3 linked regions of the Homo sapiens genome follow. The main gene of each other region encodes a partner of the protein of the gene in region 2 in a complex. Each region holds a gene or a part of one and is shown on either strand. Other genes may lie near its edges. A codon is read from its position in the direction of its gene.

Region 1 (7,020 bases), on a different chromosome or scaffold from region 2:
GAAGCCAAGCTCACAGACCAGTAAGCCACAGGGCAGGGCTAGAAGGAAGACCACCTGCACCCAGTCCCCAGCATTTTCTGCTCCATTTTTATAGCTTCCTAGCCCTTTATTAACTTGAGTTTCTCTATAATCATGATTTGTGCAATAAAGCAGCCACAGAGATGCTCTTATAGTGTTATTCCTGATAAAGGCAGAAACAAACCCAAGCGACCAGCAATAAGAGAACAGTTCATTTGAATATGGTATGTTTACATGCAGCGACAATATTACCAAAGAATATTTAAAAGTACAGAACGACGTTCACAAAATACTGCTAAGTAGGGAAAAAAAAGCTTGGTTTTTTGTTTGTTTGTTTGTTTGTTTATTTTGAGACAGGATCTCACTCTGTCACCCAGGCTGGAGTGCAGTGGCATGATCTCGGCTCACTGAAGCCTCGACCTCCCCAGGCTCAGGTGATCCTCCCACCTCGCCTCCCAAGTAGCTGGGACTACAGGCTCGCACCACCATGCCTAGCTAATTTTCATTTTTATTATTTTTTTTTGGTAGAGACGGGGTTTCGCCATATTGCCCAGGCTAGTCTCAAACTCCTGGCTTCAAGCAATCCGCCCACCTTGGCTCCCCAAAATGCTAGAATTACAGGCATAAGCCACCATGCCTGACCGAAAAAAAAGAGCTTTCAAAAGTTCATATAACAACCATGAGTAGTAAAAGCTGACATAATGTTTACTCTGTGCCAAGCCATTCTAAAATTAACCTCTTTGGTCCTCCCAAGAACCCCATGGGATATCCATGATCCTTATCCCCAGGTTACAAATGAAGAAGCTGAGACCCAGAGAGGTGGAGCCACTTGTCCTGAGACACACAGCATGTAAGTTACAGAGCCAGGATCCCAACCCAGTCCTACCTGCCCCAAAAGTCCATCTTCCCACAAGTCTTGCTCATTTCCTCACATGGCAGACACTGTTCTGGGCACTTAGTTGGCACCTTCTCTTGCATTCAGCCAACAGACCCACCACGTTGGGTCCTAGAGGCTGGGGCTGTCTCCCCCAGCCCAGCCCCAGGGCCCTGTCCCTACTCCCAGCCCTGCCCCTCCTTCCTCACACCCCATGCCCCCTCCTGGAGCCCACCTCAATCTTGCTGTTGTACACCAGGATCTCCAGCACGGAGGCCTCTTCCCCACACGTGTCCAGGGAGGAGAGGTCATAAAGCGAGGAATACACTGGCCCATAGGCCCAGTCCTTGAACTTGCGGGACAGGTGCCGTGTGTCCTCATCCGTCACCTCCCGCCGGATGATGTGCTGAAAGATCTGCACAGGGGGCCAGGAGGGTCAGGGGGCTCACACTGGAAAGACCCCCAGGGCTGGGCCCAGCTCAGCACATGACGCCTCCCCAGAAAACAGCTAAGCACCGGCTGCTGGAGGACCCTTTCCTCATCTTGTTTAATTCTTGCTCTTATTATCTTGGTTTACAGATAAAGAATGGAGGCTGGGAAAAACGAAGGGTGTTCCAGAAGCCACTTAACCAGTCAGCTGGAGCCAGACAGAACCTGGATGAGCCTTCAACATCTTAATTGTAATGAATATCTTCTTCATGCCGTTAAAATAGCAATGAATCCATCTTAATGACATGTGAATTATAATACTGACGATCACATGCGGTCCTTCCTGTTACCACTCCTCCTTCCCTGGCTTACACACAGGGAAGCGGAGGCACAGAGAGGGGTGGGAATTGCCCAAGGTCAGGCAATGTTAGGATTTTGGGGTTTTTGTTTTGAGACAGAGTCTCTCTCTGTCACCCAGGCTGGAGTGCAGTGGCGCGATCTCAGCACACTGCAACCCTCTCCTCCTAGGTTCAAGCAATTCTCCTGCCTCAGCCTCCTGAGTAGCTGGGATTACAGGTGCCCACTATCACACCCAGCTAATATTTTTGTATTTTTAGTAGAGACGGGGTTTCACCATGTTGGCCAGGCTGGTCTTGAACTCCTGACCTCAGGTGATCCGCCCACCTCGGCCTCCCAAAGTGCTGGGATTACAGGCATGAGCCACTGTGCACAGCCAGGATTTTGGGGTTTTTTGAGACAGGGTCTGGCTCTGTTGCCCAGGCTGGAGTGCAATGGCACTATCACAGCTCATTGCAGCCTCAACCTCCTGGGCTCAAGTGCTCCTCCCACCTCAGCCTCCCAAAGTGCTAGGATTACAGACACGAGCCACTGAGCCTAGCCAAAGCCAGGATTTAAACTGGAGCCTTTCTACTGCCTCAGGGCCATGGTATAATTGCAATTTTAGTAATTTTTGCTACATTTTTTTTTATTTTGGTTTTTATTTATTTGGGATCTCAAATAATCCAGGCTGGACTTAAACGATCCTCTCACCTCAGCCTCCCAACTAGCTGGCATTACAGACATGTAAGTGACACTTACTGCTTCTCCCAGGCTCCTTCCTAAGAGCCTTATGTGGATCACCGCATTTGTCACAACACCACACCAGAGGACACTCTTATATCCCCATTTTACAGACAAGGAAACTGAGGCACAGAAAAGGGAAATGAGATGTCTGAGGTCACACACTGGGAAGTGGTAGCGCCAGGGCTTGGACAGGTGCTCCTGCCTCTAGCATACTCCAGACTTGGTTCCCAATCCAGCGATGGTGCCCCCCAGAGGACAATTCAGCAATGTTCTGGAGATATTTTTGGTGGTCACAAGTGTAAGGGGAGGTGTTCCTGGCATCTGGTGGGTAGAGGCCCGGGATGCAGATCAATGTCTGGCAATAGCACAAGACGGTCCCCACCACAAAGAGCCTGCCGCCCAAAATAATCATGCTGAAGTTGAGAAACCCTTCTCCAGGCCCCATGCTGCGCGGCCCAGAAAAGGGAAGGAACTGGGGCAGGGCCATTCAACAGGTTTGAGGCTGGGAGCACCGCTGGGCTAGGGCCCGGGGACTCAGTTTCTTATCAGTGGCTCATCCTGGCTGGTGGGGGTGGAGTGGTGAACATCCAGTAGGGTGACATGAGGCGAGAGGCTCGGGGATGAAGCTAAGGAGCTTGGCTGGACACTAGGGAGCCATAGCAGGTTCTTGAGCTGGGACATCTGCACACTGGGGTTGGCATGTTGGGAGGTGCATGCACGTATTAATAATGAATACCAGCAGCAGACCCTCGTGTGTGTGTGCAGAGGGGTACGAGTAGGTGGATCAGCTGTGCCCCCAGCCGCACACTCACCCCAATCTTGCCCGTCTTGGCAGCCATCATGAGGGGCGAGAGGCCGTCGTTGTTGAGCACGGCCTCCAGGTTGCTGTCGGGGAAGAGGCGGGCACACTTGAGCAGCAGCAGGTCGTACATCTTGGTAACAAACTTGGTGTTCTCACGGGTGTTGTCAGCAATGGCCACCAGCGCATGCAGCACTGTGTTGCCTCGCGAGTCCTGGCGCCGCATGTCCGCCTTCTTGTGGGGGTTCTCCGTCAGGTAGTTGACAATGTGGGGCTGGTTGGTGCAGGCAGCCAGCGACAGGGGCAGCTCCCCTGCGGGCCAGGGTGAAGGGTGGGAGGTCAGCGAAGGGGGCCCAGGGTGGGACTCTGCCTGCAGACACTCGGGGGACGGACACCGTGGCGCTCTGAGGATAATGACGGAGACAGCACCAGCAGTGGATATGAACTGCACGTTTCTCTGGGTGATGCCAGGGAGATGGGGTGTGGCTAGTTAAGGGCACAGCCACGCGATTTGGAGGCTGTGAGGGACTGGACACATCCAATGATGGAATTCTTTTTTTTTTTTTTTTTGAGACAAAGTCTCACTCTGTCGCCTAGGCTGGAGTGCAGTGGCACAATCTCGGCTCATTGCAACCTCCACCTCCCGGGTGCAAGCAGTTCTTGTGCCTCAGCCGAGTAGCTGGGATTACAGGCGCACGCCACCACACCTGGCTAATTTTTGTATTTTTAGTAGAGGCAGGATTTCGCCATGTTGGCCAGGCTGGTCTCAAACTCCTGACCTCAAGTGATCCGCCGACCTCGGCCTCCCAAAGTGCTGGGATTACAGGCGTGAGCCACCGCGCCCAGCTGATGATGGAATTCTTTGTGTGACTTTGTCCCTGAGCTGCACATAATGAATGCCTTTAAGCAGGGGCAAAATTCAAAATATTTCATGAGTCCAGTGATGACAACGGCAGTGGTGGGCTTTGGGCCTGGTGATGGGGCTGTTGGTCCCAGCATAAACCAGATTAAAGCACACAGACAATACAGAGCTGGGCGCTGACATCACAGCCCAAGGGCCTCTCGTGATCCCCACTGCACAGCTGGGGAAGGTGAGGCTCAGGGAAGTGAGGTCACATGCCTGGAAAGTGCAGAGTGAGGATTTGGCTTTTTTTTTGTTCTTTTCTTTTTGCTTTTTAAAGACGGGGTCTTGCTCTATTTTCCAGGCTGGAGTGCAGTGGTGCAATCATGGCTTACTGCAGCCTCGAACTCCTAGGTTCAAGTGATCCTCCAGCCTCGGCCTCCCAAGCAGCTGGGACTTCAAGCACATGCCACCATGCCATCTAACTTATTTATTTATTTATTTATTTATTTATTTTTTGAGACAGAGTCTCACTCTGTCACCCAAGCTGGAGTGCAATGGGGAAATCTCGGCTCATTGCAACCTCTGTCCCCCAGGTTCAAGCAATTCTCCTGCCTCAGCCTCCCAAGTAGCTGGGATTACAGGCACCCACCACCATGCCCGGCTAATTTTTGTTATTTTTGTAGAGATGGGTTTCACCATCTTGTTGGCCAGGCTGGTCTTGAACTCTTGACCTCAGGTGATCCACCTGCCTCATCCTCCCAAAGTGCTGGGATTACAGGCATGAGCCACCGTGCCCAGCCATTTTTTAAATGTTTAAAAGAGACAGGGTATTGCTATGTTGCCTAGGCTGGTCTCAAACTCCTGCCCTCAAGCGATCCTCCTGCCTTGACCTCCCAAAGTGCTGGGATGACAGGTGTGAGACACCGTGCCTGGCTGGAGTGAGGATCTGAATCCAGGTCCATGGTACTCCCCATGGCACTTACACCTCAGAGGCAACGGCCCTGTGACCAAGACCAACGTGCAGCCTGTGGTCCAGAGTGCTGCCTGCGCTCATGGCCAGAGTGGCCCTGGGTGTCTGGGTGATGGTCAGGGCTGCAGACACCAACCAGTATCATGCTATCTCCCGCCATGCTTCTCCAGCATGCTGTCAGCCCCCACCAGGCCCCTCCTTACCAAAGTAGAAGTAGCCCCCCTCATCCTTGGGCTGGAAGAAGCGCCCACGGGCCTGGGCGTGGACATCAGCTCCCTGGGCCACGAGAAGTTCCACGTAGTGTTTGCAGCGACGCTCAATGGCGATGTGCAGGGCTGTCTGACCTGGGGGCAGGGGACGGTCATCCAGGGTCCTGGCGGAGCAGAGACCTAGCCAGGCTTGCTGGGGGTGGGGGTAGGGTGCAGGACGTAGAAATTGGGGGGTGGGGGATGCAGGCAGAGTCCTGCCCAGCGACACCCAAGGGCAGCAAATAGGTCCTTGGATATTCCCTGGGATCCATCGCAGAAGCAGAATCTCAAGCCTGAAGGATACCTAGTTTGTGGAATCCTGAATGTGAGAAGTTTTTAGATTCATAAGATGCTTTAAAAATCCTAGAGGAGGCCAGGCGCAGGCTCACGCCTGTAATCCCAGCAATTTGGGAGACCAAGGAGGGAGATCACCTGAGCCCAGGCGTTTGAGGCAAGCCTGGGCAACACAGTGAGATCCCATCTCTATAGAAATGCTAAAAATTAGCTGGGCCTGGTGACTTACACCTGTGGTCCCAGCTACTCCAGAGGCTGAGGCAGGAGGATTGCTGAAGCCTAGCAGTTCAGTACCAGCCTGGGCAACTGATATGGTTTGGCTCTGTGTCCACACCTAAATCTCACCTTGAATTGTAGTTCCCATAATCCCCATGTATCATGGGAGGGACCCTGTGAAAGGTAATTTAATCATGGGGGCAGTTACCCTCATGCTGTTTTCATGATAGTGAGTGAGTCCTCAAGAGATCTGATGATTCTATAAGGGGCTTTTCCCCCTTTTGCTTGGCACTTCTTCTTCCTACCACCATGTGAAGAAGGACATGTTTGCTTCCCCTTCCACAATGATTGTAAGTTTCCTGATGCCTCCCCAGCCCTGCGGAACTGTGAGTCAATTAAGCCTCTTTCCTTTATAAATTATCCAGTCTTGGGCAGTTCTTTATAGCAGCATGAGAACGGGCTAATACAACAACATAGTGAGACCCTGTCTCTACAGAAATTTTAAAAATTAGCCTGGCATGGTGGTCCATGCCGGTGGTCCCAGCTACTTGGGAGGGTGAGGTGGGAGACTCCCTTGAGCCCAGGAAGTCAAGGCTGCAGTGAGCCATGATCACACCACTGCACTCCAGCTTGGGTAACAGAGCAAGACCTTGTCTCAAAAAAAAGAAAACTCCTAGAGGAAACAACAGTACCTTGGCCTCCCAGAATTTTGGACTCAAGATATAATATTCATGGATTTTGAATCTTAATATCCAGGCATCTGAAGGTCAACTCTGATTTACAGAATCTCAACTGGGGATTGGCCCAGTTCTTGGCCCCCTGCTGCCTTTGCCTCTTAGAACTTGTGAACTCAGGACTTATTATCATAGAGCCTTAGAGTATCCGCCACCACAGCATCTTAGGGCCAGATCCCGAGTTCATGATCACTAGACTCGCTGCATCTCAGAATCTTGGAATCTTTTTTTTTTTTTTTTTGAGACAGGGTCTCACTCTGTCACCCAGGCTGGAGTGCAGTGGCACAATCATAGCTCACTGAAGCCTTGACCCTCTGAGCTCAAGTGATCTTCCCACCCCAGCCTCCCAAGTAGCTGGGACTACAGGTGTGCACCAACAAGCCTGGCTTTTTTTGCATCTTTTTTTTTTTTTTGAGATGAGTCTTGCTCTTGTTGCCCAAGCTGGAGTGCAATGGCGCGATATTGGCTCACTGCAACCTCCACCTCCCAGGTTCAAGCGATTCTCCTGCCT
Region 2 (7,020 bases):
CTTTCTGTAGCAGTAAGGGCACTTGGAGATCAAGAGCAGCAGGAATAAGGCACATGGTGGTAAGCAATGAAGAAAACCTTCAATTTACTGCCAAGTGAAAATCACTTCAAACTCAAGTTCTTTGGGGAAAGACAGGCAAGGAACAATCCCTGAGGTAACATACCGTCAAGTTTCCTAAATAAGAGCATGAAATCATTTATCTCAAAATGTAAATATTATAAGGTTAACCTTCAATGGATGCACAGAATCAGGATTTGACTTTGTTTGGCCTAATTCCAAACTTACATTGCCTCTAAGACAATGCGTATCTAGTAAAACTGACAAAGAAAAATGAACCATTAGGTACCTCCCAGTGAGCTGGCTAAGAATTTATATATGCTTATTGTAAACCTTATTGCAGGAGTTTACTTTTACCAAGTATATATATTTCTTAAAATAAAAAACTAGGCCGGGTGCAGTGGTTCACACCTATAATCCCACCACTTTGCGAGGCCAGAGCTCAGGAGTTAGAGACCAGCCTGGACAACATGGCAAAACGTCATCTCTATAAAAATTAAATTAATTAACTAGGTATGGTGGTGCTTGCCTGTAGTCCCAGATGCTCATGAGGCTGAGGCAGGAGTATTACTTGGGCACAAGAGTTAGAGGCTGCAGTGAGCCACGATAGCACCACTGCACTCCAGCCTGGGAAACAGATCAAGACTCTGTCTCAAAAACAAACCAAAACTTGTCATATTCTAGGAAGCCAAGCAAATAAAACGAATGAACAAAAAAACTAGTCTAAAAAACTTTAGGCCAGGAGCAGTGGCTCACACCTGTAATTCCAGCACTTTGGGAGACCGAGGCAGGAGGATCACAAGGTCAGGCCTTTGAGACCAGCCTGGCCAACATGGCGAAACCCCGTATCCACTAAAAACACAAAAAATTAGCCGGGCGTGGTGGCGGGTGCCTGTAGTTCCAGCTACTCGGGAGGCTGAAGCAGAAGAATCGCTTGAACCCGAGAGGCGGAGGTTGCAGTGAGTTGAGATCGTGCCACTGCACTGCAGCCTGGGCAACAGAGCGAGATTCCATCTCATAAAAAAAAAAAAAAAGAAACCCGCCGAGCGCGGTGGCTCACGCCTGTAATCCCAACACTTTGGGAAGCAGAGGCAGGCGGATCACAAGATCAGATCGAGACCATCCTGGCTAACAGAGTGAAACCCCATCTCTACTAAAAATACAAAAAGTTAGCTGGGTGTGGTGGCACGCACCTGTAGTCCCAGCTACTCAGGAGGCTGAGGCAGGGGAATCACTTGAACCCGGGAGGCAGAGGCTGCAGTGAGCCAAGATTGCGGCACTGCACTCCTAGATGACAGAATAAGACTCCGTCTCAAAAATAAAAATAAAAATTTAAAGCCTTGAGGAAATGCTCTTTAACTCGACTGAGTGGCAATTACTTGGGTATACACATTCATCAAAATTTATCAAACTGGCGGTTTGTGGTGGCTCATGCCTATAATCCCAGGGCTTTGTGAGGTTGAGACGAGAGAATCACTTAAGGCCAGGAGTTCAAGACCAGTCTGAGCACATAGTGAGACCCCTCTCTCTACAAAAAAAAAAATTACAAAATAAAAATGTAGCCAGGCGTGGTGGTGCACACCTGCAGTCCCAGCTACTCGGGAGGCTAAAGCAGAGAATTCTTGGGCCTAGGAGGTCGAGGATGTAGTAAGCCATGATTCCGACACTGCACTTCAGCTGGGTGACAGAACAAGGCCCTATGTCTAAAAAAAATAAGAACAAAAAAATTATCAAACTATCATTTAAAGTATGTGCATTTTATTGTATGCAAATTAAACCTCCATGAAGGTAATTAAACCTCAGGTGATTCCAATTTGGGGAACTGGATTCCAAGTTTGGGAACAGTGGAGTCTAGGAACCACTGTTCTTAAGTACCAGGAACCAAGTAGTAAGCCCTGTTTTATTCCAAGAAATCTTAGGGTGCTACTCCCACTACCCTCCCACCACCCCCGAAAAAAGGTACTACAAACTGTAACCTGAATAGTGAAAGTTGAAGATAGCTGGACTCAGTGGCTCATGCCCGTACTTGCAGCACTTTGGGAGTCTGAGGTGGGAGGACTGTTTGAGCCCAGGAGTCTGAGACCCAACCTGGGCAAGACAGCAAGACTCCATCTCTACAAAATGTAAAAATATTAGCTGGGCGCAGTGGCACATACACCTGTAGTCCCAGCTACTAGGGAGGACGAGGCGTAAGGATACCTTGACACCAAAAGTTGGAGGCCACCATGAGCTATGACTGTGCCACTGCACTCCAGCCTAGATGACAAAACAAGACCTTATCTCTCCAAAAAAAAGCCAGGCGCAGTGGCTCACACCCGTAATCCCAGTACTTTGGGAAGCCAAGGCAGGTGGATCACAAGGTCAGGAGTTCAAGACCAGCCTGGCCAACAAAGTAAAACCCCGTCTCTAGTAAAACACACACACACACACACACACACAAAATTAGCCGGGCATGGTGGCACGCACCTGTAGTCCCAGCTACTTGGGAGGCTGAGGCAGGAGAATCGCTTGCACCCTGGTAGGCAGAGATTGCAGTGAGCCGAGATTGTGCCACTACACTCCAGCTTAGACAACAGAGCAAGACTCCGTCTCAAAAAAAAAAAAAAAAAAAAAAAAAAAGGCCAGAAGGCCAGGCACGGTGGCTCACGGCTGTAATCCTAGCACTTTGGGAGGCCAAGGCAGGCAGATTGCCTGAGCTCAGGAGATGGAGACCAGCCTGGGCAACATGGTTAAACCCCGTCTCTACTAAAATACAAAAAAAAAAAAAAATTAGCCAGGCGTGGCAGCATGCACCTGTAGTCCCAGTTTACCTGGGAGGCTAAGGCAGGAGAACCGCATGAACCCGGGAGGCAGAGTTTGCAGTGAGCCGAGATCACGCCACTGCACTCCAGCCTGGGCGACAGAGCGAGACTCTTGTCTCCAAAAAAAAAAATAATAAAAAAAGTAGGCCAGGCGCGGTGGCTCACACCTATAATCCCAACACTTTGGGAGGCGGAGGCAGGCAGATCACCTGAGGTCAGGAGATCGGGACCATCCTGGCTAACACGGTAAAACCCTGTCTCTACTAAAAATACAAAAAAAAAAAACACCTAGCCGGGCGTGGTGGCGGGCACCTGTAGTCTCAGCTACTCAGGAGGCTGAGGAAGGAGAACTGCTTGAACTCGGAGGGCGGAGGTTGCAGTGAGCCGAGATCGCGCCACTGCACTCCAGCCTGGGTGACAGAGCGAGACTGTGTCTCAAAAAAAAAAAAAAAAAAAAAAAAATTAGCTGGGCATGGTGACATGCCTGTAAACCCCAACTAATGGGGAGGCTGAGGCAGGAGAATCACTTGAATCCAGGAGGTGGAGGTTGCAGTGAGCTGGGATCACGCCATTGCACTCCAGCCTGGGCAACAAGAGCAAAACTCCATCTCAAAAAATAAATAAATAAAATAAGTTAGTTGAAGGGCTACATGTCTGGCACTTGAGGTAAGTGCTTCTCTCTCACTGAAATCTCATGGCGCTTCCTTACCATTCCCTTTCTACAGAAGAAAAAAACTGAATTACAAAGGAGACATACTACTGCCAAGGGTCTCAAGCCATCAAGTGTCAGAGCTAGTATTTAACTGTCAGTTTCTCTCCAGAATCCATGCTCTTAAATAAGATACTCTACTGCCTTTTCTTTCCTTCTTTTTTTTGTGTGTATGTTTGAGACGGAGTTTCGCTCTGTTGCCCGGGCTGGAGTGCAGCAATCTTGGCTCACTGCAACCTGCGCCTCTCAAGTTCGAGGGATTCTCCTGCTTCAGCCTTCCGAGTAGCTGGGATTACAGGCACTCACTAATACACTCGGCTGATTTTTGTATTTTTAGTAGAGATGGGGTTTCACCATGTTGGTCAGACTGGTTTCGAACTCCTGACCTCAGGTGACCCACCCACCTCGGCCTCCCAAAGTGCTGGGATAACTGGCATGAGCCACCATACGCAGCCTGCCTTCTGTTTCTGAACTTAAGATCTTCAAAAGATAAACAGAGCTTCATTATGAATAACTGGAAAAGTTAAACAAGAGATTTCATCCAGAAAAGAAATTTTCCACACACACAAAAAAACAGGTATTTCCAACAAAGCTGCCATATCACATAATAAAATTATCTTGTAGAAAAAAGCATTAACAAAGTGTTACAACATTAAATATCCATCTTAAATTTACTTCCTTAACCTCTCAAAGCCTATATCCCAAACAAAGTTACAAAAAAAAATCCCAGTAGTAGAGCATATGATCTCTAGGTCCATGGAAGAGACACCAGAGAATCACAACTCATCTGCAACATACAGACTAGGATACAATGGCTAGAAGAATACAGTAAAATAAAAATGTATACATAACAAAAGTTAGAATGCTCAACCATATACTTGAAGTCAAAACAAGCAACTTTTTTAAATCATGGGACTGAATCCTTGTGCTTTAGAGCAGCTATAAGCTTCAGAAATTAAAAATCTTGGCCAGGGTAGCTCACGCCCGTAATCCCAGCAGGAAGCTGAGGCGGGTGGATTGCCTGAGGTCAGGAATTTGAGACCAGCCTGGCCGACATGGTAAAATTCTTGTCTCTACTAAAATACAAAATACAAAAATTAGCCAAGGGTGGTGGGCAGGTGGTGGATGGCACCTGTAATCGAGCTAGTGGGTAGGTTGAGGCACGAGAATCGCTTGACTCACATCTTTAATCCCAGCACTTTGGGAGGCTGAGGCAGGAGGACAACTTGAGCCCAGGAGTACAAGATCTGTCTGGGCAACATAGCAAGACACCATCTCTAGTACAAAAAAAGAGAAGAAAAAAATAAAGCAAAAAAATTTTAAAAACAAATCCTTAGTGGCTCATGCTTGTAATCCCAACACCTTGGGAGGCCAAGGTGGGTGGGTCACGGGGTCACGAGGTCAAGAGATCAAGGCCATCCTGGCCAACATGGTGAGATCCCGTCTTTACTAAAAATACAAAAATTAGTCGGGCATGGTCACACACACACACCTGTAGTCCCAGCTACTCTAGAGACTGAGGCACGAGAATCGCTTGAACCTGGGAAACAAAGGTTGAAGTGAACAAAGATCACTCACTGCACTCCAGCCTGGGTGACAGTGAGACCCTGTCTCAAGAGAAGAGAAGAGAAGAACCAATGACTTCAAATAAAATAGGCAGAAGTCACTAAGTCAAGGAAATTAATATTATGAAATCCTTTCCGTTTTTTTTTTTTTTTTTTTTTTTTTGAGTCTTGCACCGTCTCCCAGGCTGGAGTGCAATGGCTCGATCTCTGCTCACAGCAACCTCCGCCTCCCAGGTTAAAGTGATTCTCCTATCTCAGCCTCCTGAATAGCCGGGATTATAGGCGCCTGCTGCCACGCCCAGCTAATGTTTTGTATTTTTAGTAGAGACAGGGTTTCACCATGTGGCCAGGCTGGTCTCAAACTCCTGACCTCAAGTGATCCACCTGCCCAGCACTTCCAAAGTGCTGGGATTACAGGCATCAGCCACTGCTCCCAGCCAGGAATTCCTTTTTATATTTGTCCAAATTATCATATTAGTTTACTATTTAGTCAGAATGGAATTAGATCTACTCCTACTCACAGTGATTCTAGTTTTTTTTTTAATATCAGATCATGTCATTCCCTTTCTAAAGAATATCTAAATGACTTCTAATCTCAGAACAAATCCAAAGAATTTCCCATGTCCTAAAGGCCCTATATGATTTGGCCCCTGCCCACCTCTCTAACCTCTTTTTACCTCCAACTTTTCCTTTCACTCCACTTCAAACTTACTTCATTGGCTGTGTATGTTTTCCTCTTTCCCTTCACTTAAATTTAAGATACTATCATAAATATGCTTAAATATGGCCAGACATAGTGGCTCTCACCTGCAATCTCAACACTTTCAGAGGCCAAGGGGGGCAGATCACAAGGCCAGGAGTTCGAGAACAGCCTGACCAACATGGTGAAACCCCGTCTCTACTAAAAATACAAAAATTAGCTGAGCACAGTGGCGCATGCTGGTACTCCCAACTACTCCAGAGGCCGAGGCACAAGAATCACTTGAACTAGGAGGCGGCGGTTGCAGTGAGCCGAGATGGCGCTACTGCACTCTGGCCCGGACGACAGAGTGAGACTCAGTCTCAAAAGAGAAAAAAAAAAAAATATATATATATACACACACACATACACACACGTATATGTACACATATATATACGTATACACGTATATGTACACATATATATACGTATACACGTATATACGTATACACAAGTATATATACATATACACACACACACATATGCTTAAATATACATACTCATCCTCTTCAAAAAATAAAATCAAGCTAAGTTTGGCATAAACTGCATACTGATTGCAATTTAGCAAGAGTATTTGATGTTTTTCTTTATTATTAGCTATAAAAATGTATTTGGATGAAGCATCAATAAACTGAGACCAACACCCAGAACGAGCAGCTTCAGTGCCTGATTTTCAGTCACATGACTATCGTAATTATGAACATACCAAGGCCTTCACTTAATACTACAGCTCCACAGATTAAAGATGAGGGATTTTATAGTAATTACAAACTTCAAACCGTCTTGGAAATTTTAATCCCACAAATGAGCATGTCCCCAAAGAGCCCCATGTATAGCAAGGCATGTAACATTAAGTTCAAAATTTAGTTATATTAATGTGTAGTTACAAGCAAACAGTTCCATTGGGCAGGTAAACAAAGGAATAAACTAAATGGCAGAGTCAGACAAAATACTTAAGATCCTTTTTTTTTTTTTTTGAGACGGAGTCTCGCTCTGTTGCCCTGGCTGGAGCACAGTGGCGCGATCTCAGCTCACGGCAAGCTCCGCCTCTCGGGTTCACGCCATTCCCCTGCCTCAGCCTCCAGAGCAGCTGGGACTACAGGCGCCCGCCACCACACCCAGCTAATTTTTTTTGTATTTTTAGTAGAG
Region 3 (6,869 bases), on a different chromosome or scaffold from region 2:
AGCCCCGCCCCAGGCCCTGCCCCCTCAAGCCTCACGTGTTTGATGAATAGCTGAGCCAGCCAATCAGGATCTTTCAGACACCGTTGTAGCTCTTGCAAGAAATAGCTGGAGGGGTTGGTAGAGAAGCAGCAGGTCAAATACATTTCACAACCCCCACCTCGCCCACTCCCAGCAGTTTCGAGCTGTCTGCCCTGGTAGTGTGCCCTACAAAACTTCTCCAAACATTCCTTAAGTCGCAATGGGCTGATGTTAGGATACAGGACAACCAGATGAGGGCCCCTCTCCAGCACCTAGCTGTCAGAGTTCCACCACTCACTCTCGGTGCCACTCATAGATTTGCTGGATATTCCCAAACACAATCCTGTCACGGCCTCGAAGACTCTCGGGGACCCCCTGAGCAGCCATGGTGGCCATATAACCCTGTGGGAAAGTTGAGGTTGGGTCATGAGCATGTGGTGGCCCTCTCCCCACCTTAATGGTGCTCCTGTACACAAATCCAGGGTGTGTTCCACCTCCCCCTCCCTGGTGGGAGCCGCCCTGCCCCCAGAGTAGGAAGGTCCAGGAGTGGGGAGGCTTGAGAGGTGGGACAGAGGAGCGCCCAGGCACCTCCTGAAAATAGCCCTGGGCAGATGGAAAAGCAGGCAGGAGGGGCTGGGAAGGGGTAAAGGGAGCTACCTCCACAATCTGCCCCAAGTCGTCCACGTACATTTTCTCTGTTTCTACCAGTTCACTCAGGACATACCTAGGATGAAAGCAGGAGGAGGCCCCCACTTCAGCGTCGGAGCTCATCCTTGGTTCAGCCCGTTCCTCCCTCCTCCCCTTTATCATCATAGCCAACCTTGGAGGAAATTCCATCTAAAATGTGAGGGACAGTCTTCTGGAAGTTGTGCAACTGCAGGGAAGGGCTGTGGACACTTACATACTCCTTTCCAGAGCCTTCTTCTTCTGTTCCTCCTCACTCTCAGGGGCTTGGGACAAAGTCTCCTCTTCAGGTGGCTGGAAGGAAAGAACATCCTAGGGTGAGCAAACGAATGCCCCTTGAGTGAAAGGAGCCTCCCCAGAGCCTGTCCTCACACCTGCGTCTTATCTCCAGGGCCCTCCAACAGTGTGGTCAGCAAGGTCAGTTCCGGCAGCTCCTCTCCTGTGGCTAGAGCTGGCTCCAACATCCAGTTCTGGGGGCCAGAAATCAAGTGTCAGAGGTCGGGGACAGTAGCTGGGTGGCCCCAACTTGCCCTCTCTGCCAGTGTCCTTCATAGATGTCCCACATGCTTTGGTGCCGTTCCCTGCTCACCTCATATGGTCCTGCCTGACCACTGTCTGCCTCAGTTTCCACACTGAGACAATGTTTGGAATGATCCAACCATCTCCTCAGGCCACTGACGGGCCCTGGGGGGCCTGGGGAACAGGGGCCAGAGCTGAGGCCAGAGCTGGGGCCAGAGGGGGCAGCCAGACCGGAGGCAGCAGAAGCCGATATACTCCCCTCACTGCCCGCAATGGAATAGGATTCTAATGGGAGGAAAAAGAGAGGAGGTGATAGACCTTGCCCCAGCTCCAGACTCAGGGTCCCCAGGGAACTCCCAGGGTCTTCTCTTCATGATGCTCAGCCTCTCTCTCCAAGGGCTCACTCTCTTGCCATCCTCATTTGAGTTGGCCAGGATAGAAAATTTCACCAGGGCACCCCTGGGAGAAAGCACAGTAAGGTAAACGCCTGGCTCTCCAGGCCTGGAACCCCCAGTTACATGTGGAGGTTCCCCATATCCTGAGCATAGCATAGATATGGGGGTGGGGGCAGCCATCTGGGCAGACATTGGAAGCTGGGGGTGGCCATCTGCTCTCCTACAACCCTCCCTCTTTCAATGGGTACAGACCATTCTCTGGGAAGAGGGGAGGATGAGCTGGGTCCATCTGCCACTCCCAGTCCCCTCCTCCACCAATTGCAGTAATCACTATAAAAAGAAAAGACTTCTGCAGCCCACCTCCCCAACACATGCGTAGACCCAATAGAGGAGGCCAGTGAGGAGGGTCCATCAGGGTTATCGTTGGCCTGTGCTCAGCGACAGAGAGCTGTGATTCCTTATAAAGCCCCTTGTAGAACCACCTCATTCTCATTCCTCCATTCTCCTGTCCCTCTTCAGAAGTAGATTCTTAGCAAAAGGTTTGAGGAAAATAATCGGTTCTAGGCCTAAGGGGATTGTGGGTGGGTTTTTCTCAAACCCATTTGACAAAGGGAAAGAGATGAGTTCCCTGCCCCTTCCCCTATTTCCTTAACTTGAACTAACAGAAATTTGGAGGCAGAAGGGACCTTAGGGATCACTTAAGAAACCACTTTCCTGGAAAACACATACAGTCTCCAACCCTAAATCCCAAGGGCCAGGGCAAACAGATGCCCTGAACCCCCAGCCCGCCCCCCACTCAACACTGGACCCTCTCGACCTGGCACTCACCACGTCCCCCCCGGGCGAAGCAGCAGCCGCATTTTGCCAGCACTTTTCGGATCACACGGGGACAGGCACAGCGACCCCCTTTGTGCCCCCCCCGCATGGCGCCCGGGCCCCCCCGCGCCCCCCACCCGGGCCGGCCATGCAGGGGGAATCACGGGGGGCGGGGCGGGGACGGCGCCGGGCGCACACCCCCCCTCCCTCCTACCCCGGTCCAGGCTGTGGGAGGGGGGGAGGGAGGGGACCGGGAGGAGGTGTCCAGGGGTAGGCGGAAGTCTAGTCTTGAGGAGGGCTGGGGGCTCTAGAGAGAGAGAGGCGCGGGGCCCGGCCGCCGGGCTGGGCGGGGAGGGTTTCCGGAACCCTGTCGGTGCGGGGGCCTAGGGTCCAGATGTCCAGTGGAAGGGGGAGGGATGGTAGGGGAGGCTGGGCCGGGATGCGGCAGCCGCTCCAGCTGTCTCCGGCCTCTGGTTAGGGGTGGCTCTAGGCCCGGGCCGGGGAGGAGGCGAGGGCCGACCCCCGAGCCACTGGCGCTGTGCGGGTCCCAGCGGAGCGGAGAGCTGAATAACAGGCCTGGCCGCGGGGCCGCCACGAGGCGGGGCCTCTGCGGCCCAGCTCCGCCCTCTCCATCGCGTTCCCCCTCCTGCCTGCGCCGGGTTCCCGCCCCGATCGCCCCTCCCCCAGACACCACCACGTTCCCACTCCACGTCCCCAGCGCTTTTTCCCCTCCCCAGCCCGTGCTCCCCTGCCCCGGGGTCCCCCTCCCTCTCGCATCCCGGGCTCTGCGGAGCGCTGGGGTCGGGGTTCAGCCTGTCTGCAGGGTCTGCCCAGGTCTCCCCTTGGCCTCTGCGATGAAGGAGGACTCAGTGGATGGGGCCTTGGCCTGTGCGAAGATGTTCTGGGTTTGGGGCTGTCCCCGGCCGAGTGGACAGAGGCCCCCTGGTACGGGGTGCGTGTATGGGGAGTCTTTTGTGGGTGAACACAACCCAGATGCCGCCCTCTCTCAGGACCCTTCTTTCCTCCAGGCCCCGGGACTCCAGCTAAGACTAATCGCCAATTAAGGCGAAGTCCTGGAGCCCGGGCTGGCGAGGGGCCAGGGGTGGGGCGCGGGGACACTCTGCCTGCGAGGGCTCGGGATCGACTGGGATGGGGGACACACATTGGACTCGAAGGCAAGAAGAGTGGAGGTCTCTGCGATTAAATGGGTCTCATGCAAATTAGATGCGAACTTTATGCTAATAAGAATAGAATATTTTTGAATTCGCCACTTGGCGCAGGATAGCAAACTGTGCCCCACCCCACCCCCAGCTTCTTACCGGGCTGCAGAGCCCCGGCGAGGACCTCATGTTCGCGATCCCTTCTGTGATCTCCCTCCGTACGTTCAGACTCTGGCTCGGTACCCACCAACCCTAGAGGGCTTCTCCTTGGGGGCTGCGGGGACAGAACCACTGTAAGGAACCTGCCCTCCTAGGCAGCCCTGACCTCCCCCTTCCCCTTCTCCTACCTGTCAAAACCCACATTGTTATAAAAGGCTCGCCCAGAACGGGGCTATGGCCCTCGTAATAGAATTCATGTATTCCTGCGACTGCCCCGCAGAACTCGTTTTCGGATAAGTTGAGTTGTGGGTGCAGCCCTCCTGAAGGCCCCGAAAGACCCCCGACCCCACCGCGAGCCCCCATTCTTACCCCCTCCTGCCCAGGGAGGGCGCATGCGCGCAGCATGCCCCCCATGACCCCCAGTATCCGGTCAGTGCGGCCAGGGGCGGGGCGGTCCGGGGGCTTCATACTGAACCCCCACCCTGCTCCAAGTTTCAGGGTCGAGGGGGCACTGAAGCTGGGGGGCTTTGAGGCCTGCGCGCGTCCGGGGAGTTGCTGCTGCGGAATCCGCCCCCTGCCCGGCTCCGCCCCCACTCCCACCCCAGCCAAACTTCGCAGAGTGGCTAGGGTTGTTTTCTCTACAACCATAGTTGAACAACAAAAAAACACCCTCTTAATACTAATTCCAACATCGAAGTGACCCAGGGTTTCTCAGTGTTACTACAGAGCCCGCTGGTGCATCCCGTTTCCCCAGGTCCTCAGGAGGCAGAGGGACTGGGAGTGCACGCAGGGATCACCCCATCATCCCCTCTCCCCTTTCCAGCAGGTCCCTCTCCCCACCCCACCCCCACCCAGTCCCTGGAAAAGAACGGGTGTGGCATAAAGAGTTGCATATTTTACTTTATTTTTATTAAATTAAAAGCTACAGTCTGGCAGCGATTCCAGAACAGGGTAAGGAGGTTCCTCACAGGGGTCAGAGAAGAGCGGAGAAAGACAGACTGACGGAGACTGAGACACAGGAGAGAAAGGACAAGGTTAAGGGAGAACTGTATCTGATGAACACACACAGCCGGCTCCATGGCGGGTGACGGGGAGCTCACATCAGCCCAATTTCTCCTCCCCGGCACCCGAAGTTCAGCGGTGGAGCAGTATGTGGGGGCGGTTAGGAATCAAGAGACCCTCCCTTCCCCACCCTAGGTCCTTTCTCGGCTTGGTCGTGGAGCACAGCACATACCAGAAAAAGCCAAGGGCAATGGAGGGGCAGGGAAACCGGGAGTATATGTACACGGGGAGGGGAGAACAGAGCCTTGGAGGTCGGCCTCTGCCAGAAGGGAGTGGCTCACACTGCATTGAAACACTTGGCCAGTGGGGGATGGGGGAAGGGATTGCCCCCTCCCTCTCGGAACTCCCTTCCCAGTCAGACAGGTCCCCTACAGGTGTGGTGTGGGGGGCAGGGGGCAGAGAGGAGAAAGAGGCTTCTGCTGGGTCCTAGTAGAGGCAGACAGCAGGGGCCTTGGCAAAGGCGATGTCCTTCAGTCATCTGTGATACCCTTCGCTCTCAGCTCCTCTTGCACCCGGGTCAGGTAGGTGGGGTCTGGGTACCCAAACCTGGGAGCAAAGAGAAATGAGGGTGAGGGTTGTTAGCTGTTTGAACTTGCTATTATCCCCATGCTCACCCTCATTCTAGGTGGCTCAGACACCTCCCCACCTCCCCTAAGGGAGGACACCTCCAAATCCAAGATAATTTAGCCCAGTTCTGCTTATTTTTGTAGGCTAAGCTGGGCACACCAGGACCAGGTTGAATGTAGGAGAAACTGAGATGGCTGAACAGTTTGGAAGTGGTTCTCTCCAGTTAGGAGGCTCCGTGAGCGAGGGGTTGGTGGGTCCCTCAGTGGAAATGGAACAAAGGGGAGGAGCCAAGGGAAAGGAAATGAAGAGGGGTCGCACAGCTGGGGTCCCCCTGTGCAGCTGGTCTTGTGGTGGATGTCGTTCCAGGTGATGACATTCGGTCTCCCTGTGGTCATGGACGTGCCGATAGTGAAGGTGAGACGCTGGTCAAACGCCTTGCGGAACAGGGTCAGCACCTTGTTGCCCTCAGGGCAGTCCGGGAGGTAGGCCACCCGTGTGGTGCCAGGATACCGAACTCCTGGGTTTGGGTGTTCAGCCTGGGAGGAAGGTGAAGCAGAGTGGGCAGTGAGCAGCCAGGCATCCTAAGGCCCAGATGCCAGAGGAGGGTCATCCAGGCTAGTCTCTGTCTGAGCACCCCCAGCTAATGCGAACGGGGCAGCAACAGGCTGACAGCTTTCCACAGAAGGAGAGATTATACGGCCTCGGCAGCAAGAGCCTGTTTCAGAGCATAATCCTTATGTGTTAAGAGATTTTTTCTGCTGTCTCAATCCCTCAAGTCTCCATTCAGCAACAAATGGATTCTCAGAAGTGATGGAAGTTAGCTGGTCCCTACACTCCAGACAACTCAGCAAAAATGTGAAGACAGAATAATCTATCTTTCAGCCTTCCCTTCACCTGAAAATACTCCTAATGTTTCTGCCACTGTCTAACTTGTTCCATTTTCCATCACTCTTCTGTGCAGCTTCTTCACCCCTCTGCAGCCAGAATTGCACATTACTCTTTGTCCAGCAGGAAGACACCTATAGGCCTTGACTACTCCTGTTTTTACAGAGTGATGCTCCTGGCTCTGTTGGGTTGGTCAGATCCCTTCCTATTGTGCCTCCCTTCCCCTAAGCCACCACCTCCACAGAATTTACCTCTGCCAAGATGTCAGCACAGTATTTGTGTTCATCAAGGAAATAATATGCAATTCCTTCCTCTCATATCTGATTTGCTTTTTTTTTTCCTAGCTCATATCTGATTTTCACGTGTGCCTTGGGATCACAGGGATGGAAAGGCTGGGCCTCACGGGGACCTCCTAGGTCCAGGGCACTGAGTAGGAGGGCACAGTGGAAGACAGCAAGACTGTCTCACATCTAACAAGCACACTCACCCTCACCCGGTTTTCCTAGGTCAGAGCTTGGGGAAAGCCAAAGGGTAAGGGCAGGCCATGGTCTTCTTACCCCCTGGACACCGGGCGGGAAGACGTACTGGATGACAATGGTGCCGT

What was found. The genes of interacting proteins can lie anywhere in the genome.
Region 1: the proteins of RHOA (region 2) and TRPV4 are in contact, whole or in part, in a cryo-EM structure (PDB 9IQX), measured with the Homo sapiens proteins. Residues at the interface, in NP_001300870.1 of Homo sapiens: Met1, Ala2, Ala3, Arg5, Tyr34, Pro36, Val38, Phe39, Glu40, Asn41, Tyr42, Val43, Glu54, Trp58, Glu64, Asp65, Arg68, Leu69, Leu72, Pro75, Asp76; in NP_067638.3 of Homo sapiens: Lys177, Arg179, Thr181, Glu183, Glu184, Arg186, Pro188, Arg224, Glu225, Asn228, Ser229, Pro230, Arg232, Arg237, Asp263 (codon at 5,287), His265 (codon at 5,281), Ala266 (codon at 5,278), Gln267 (codon at 5,275), Arg269 (codon at 5,269), Asp313 (codon at 3,432), Arg315 (codon at 3,426), Arg316 (codon at 3,423).
Region 3: the proteins of RHOA (region 2) and ARHGEF25 are in contact, whole or in part, in a crystal structure (PDB 2RGN), measured with the Homo sapiens proteins. Residues at the interface, in NP_001300870.1 of Homo sapiens: Arg5, Tyr34, Pro36, Thr37, Val38, Glu40, Asn41, Val43, Asp45, Glu54, Trp58, Asp59, Ala61, Gly62, Gln63, Asp65, Tyr66, Asp67, Arg68, Leu69, Leu72, Pro75, Asp76; in NP_891992.3 of Homo sapiens: Tyr163 (codon at 741), Val164 (codon at 738), Glu167 (codon at 729), Thr171 (codon at 717), Met174 (codon at 708), Tyr175 (codon at 705), Asp178 (codon at 696), Cys253, Lys256, Pro257, Glu260, Ser264, Arg275, Arg281, Leu282, Asn285, Asp286, Ile289, Lys290, Val292, Gln293, Arg294, Met296, Lys297, Gln299, Leu300, Leu301, Cys327, Pro330, Lys331.

The regions. Positions count from the first base shown.
Region 1 is NC_000012.12:109,795,398-109,802,417, forward strand, and holds part of TRPV4 (transient receptor potential cation channel subfamily V member 4), read right to left. Parts: intron 5,362-7,020; coding exon 5,221-5,361; intron 3,516-5,220; coding exon 3,217-3,515; intron 1,308-3,216; coding exon 1,128-1,307; intron 1-1,127. UniProt on the Homo sapiens protein: Non-selective calcium permeant cation channel involved in osmotic sensitivity and mechanosensitivity. Activation by exposure to hypotonicity within the physiological range exhibits an outward rectification.
Region 2 is NC_000003.12:49,401,963-49,408,982, forward strand, and holds part of RHOA (transforming protein RhoA isoform 1 precursor), read right to left. Parts: intron 4,845-7,020; exon of another isoform or gene 4,750-4,844; intron 1-4,749. UniProt on the Homo sapiens protein: Small GTPase which cycles between an active GTP-bound and an inactive GDP-bound state.
Region 3 is NC_000012.12:57,607,567-57,614,435, reverse strand, and holds the start of ARHGEF25 (rho guanine nucleotide exchange factor 25), read right to left. Parts: upstream 3,002-6,869; 5' UTR 2,542-3,001; coding exon 2,445-2,541; intron 1,681-2,444; exon of another isoform or gene 1,540-1,680; intron 1,507-1,539; coding exon 1,292-1,506; intron 1,173-1,291; coding exon 1,077-1,172; intron 997-1,076; coding exon 920-996; intron 743-919; coding exon 676-742; intron 421-675; coding exon 317-420; intron 106-316; coding exon 36-105; intron 1-35. Other genes in the region: probable E3 ubiquitin-protein ligase DTX3, read right to left, coding at 5,284-5,359, 5,699-5,916, 6,823-6,869. UniProt on the Homo sapiens protein: May play a role in actin cytoskeleton reorganization in different tissues since its activation induces formation of actin stress fibers. It works as a guanine nucleotide exchange factor for Rho family of small GTPases.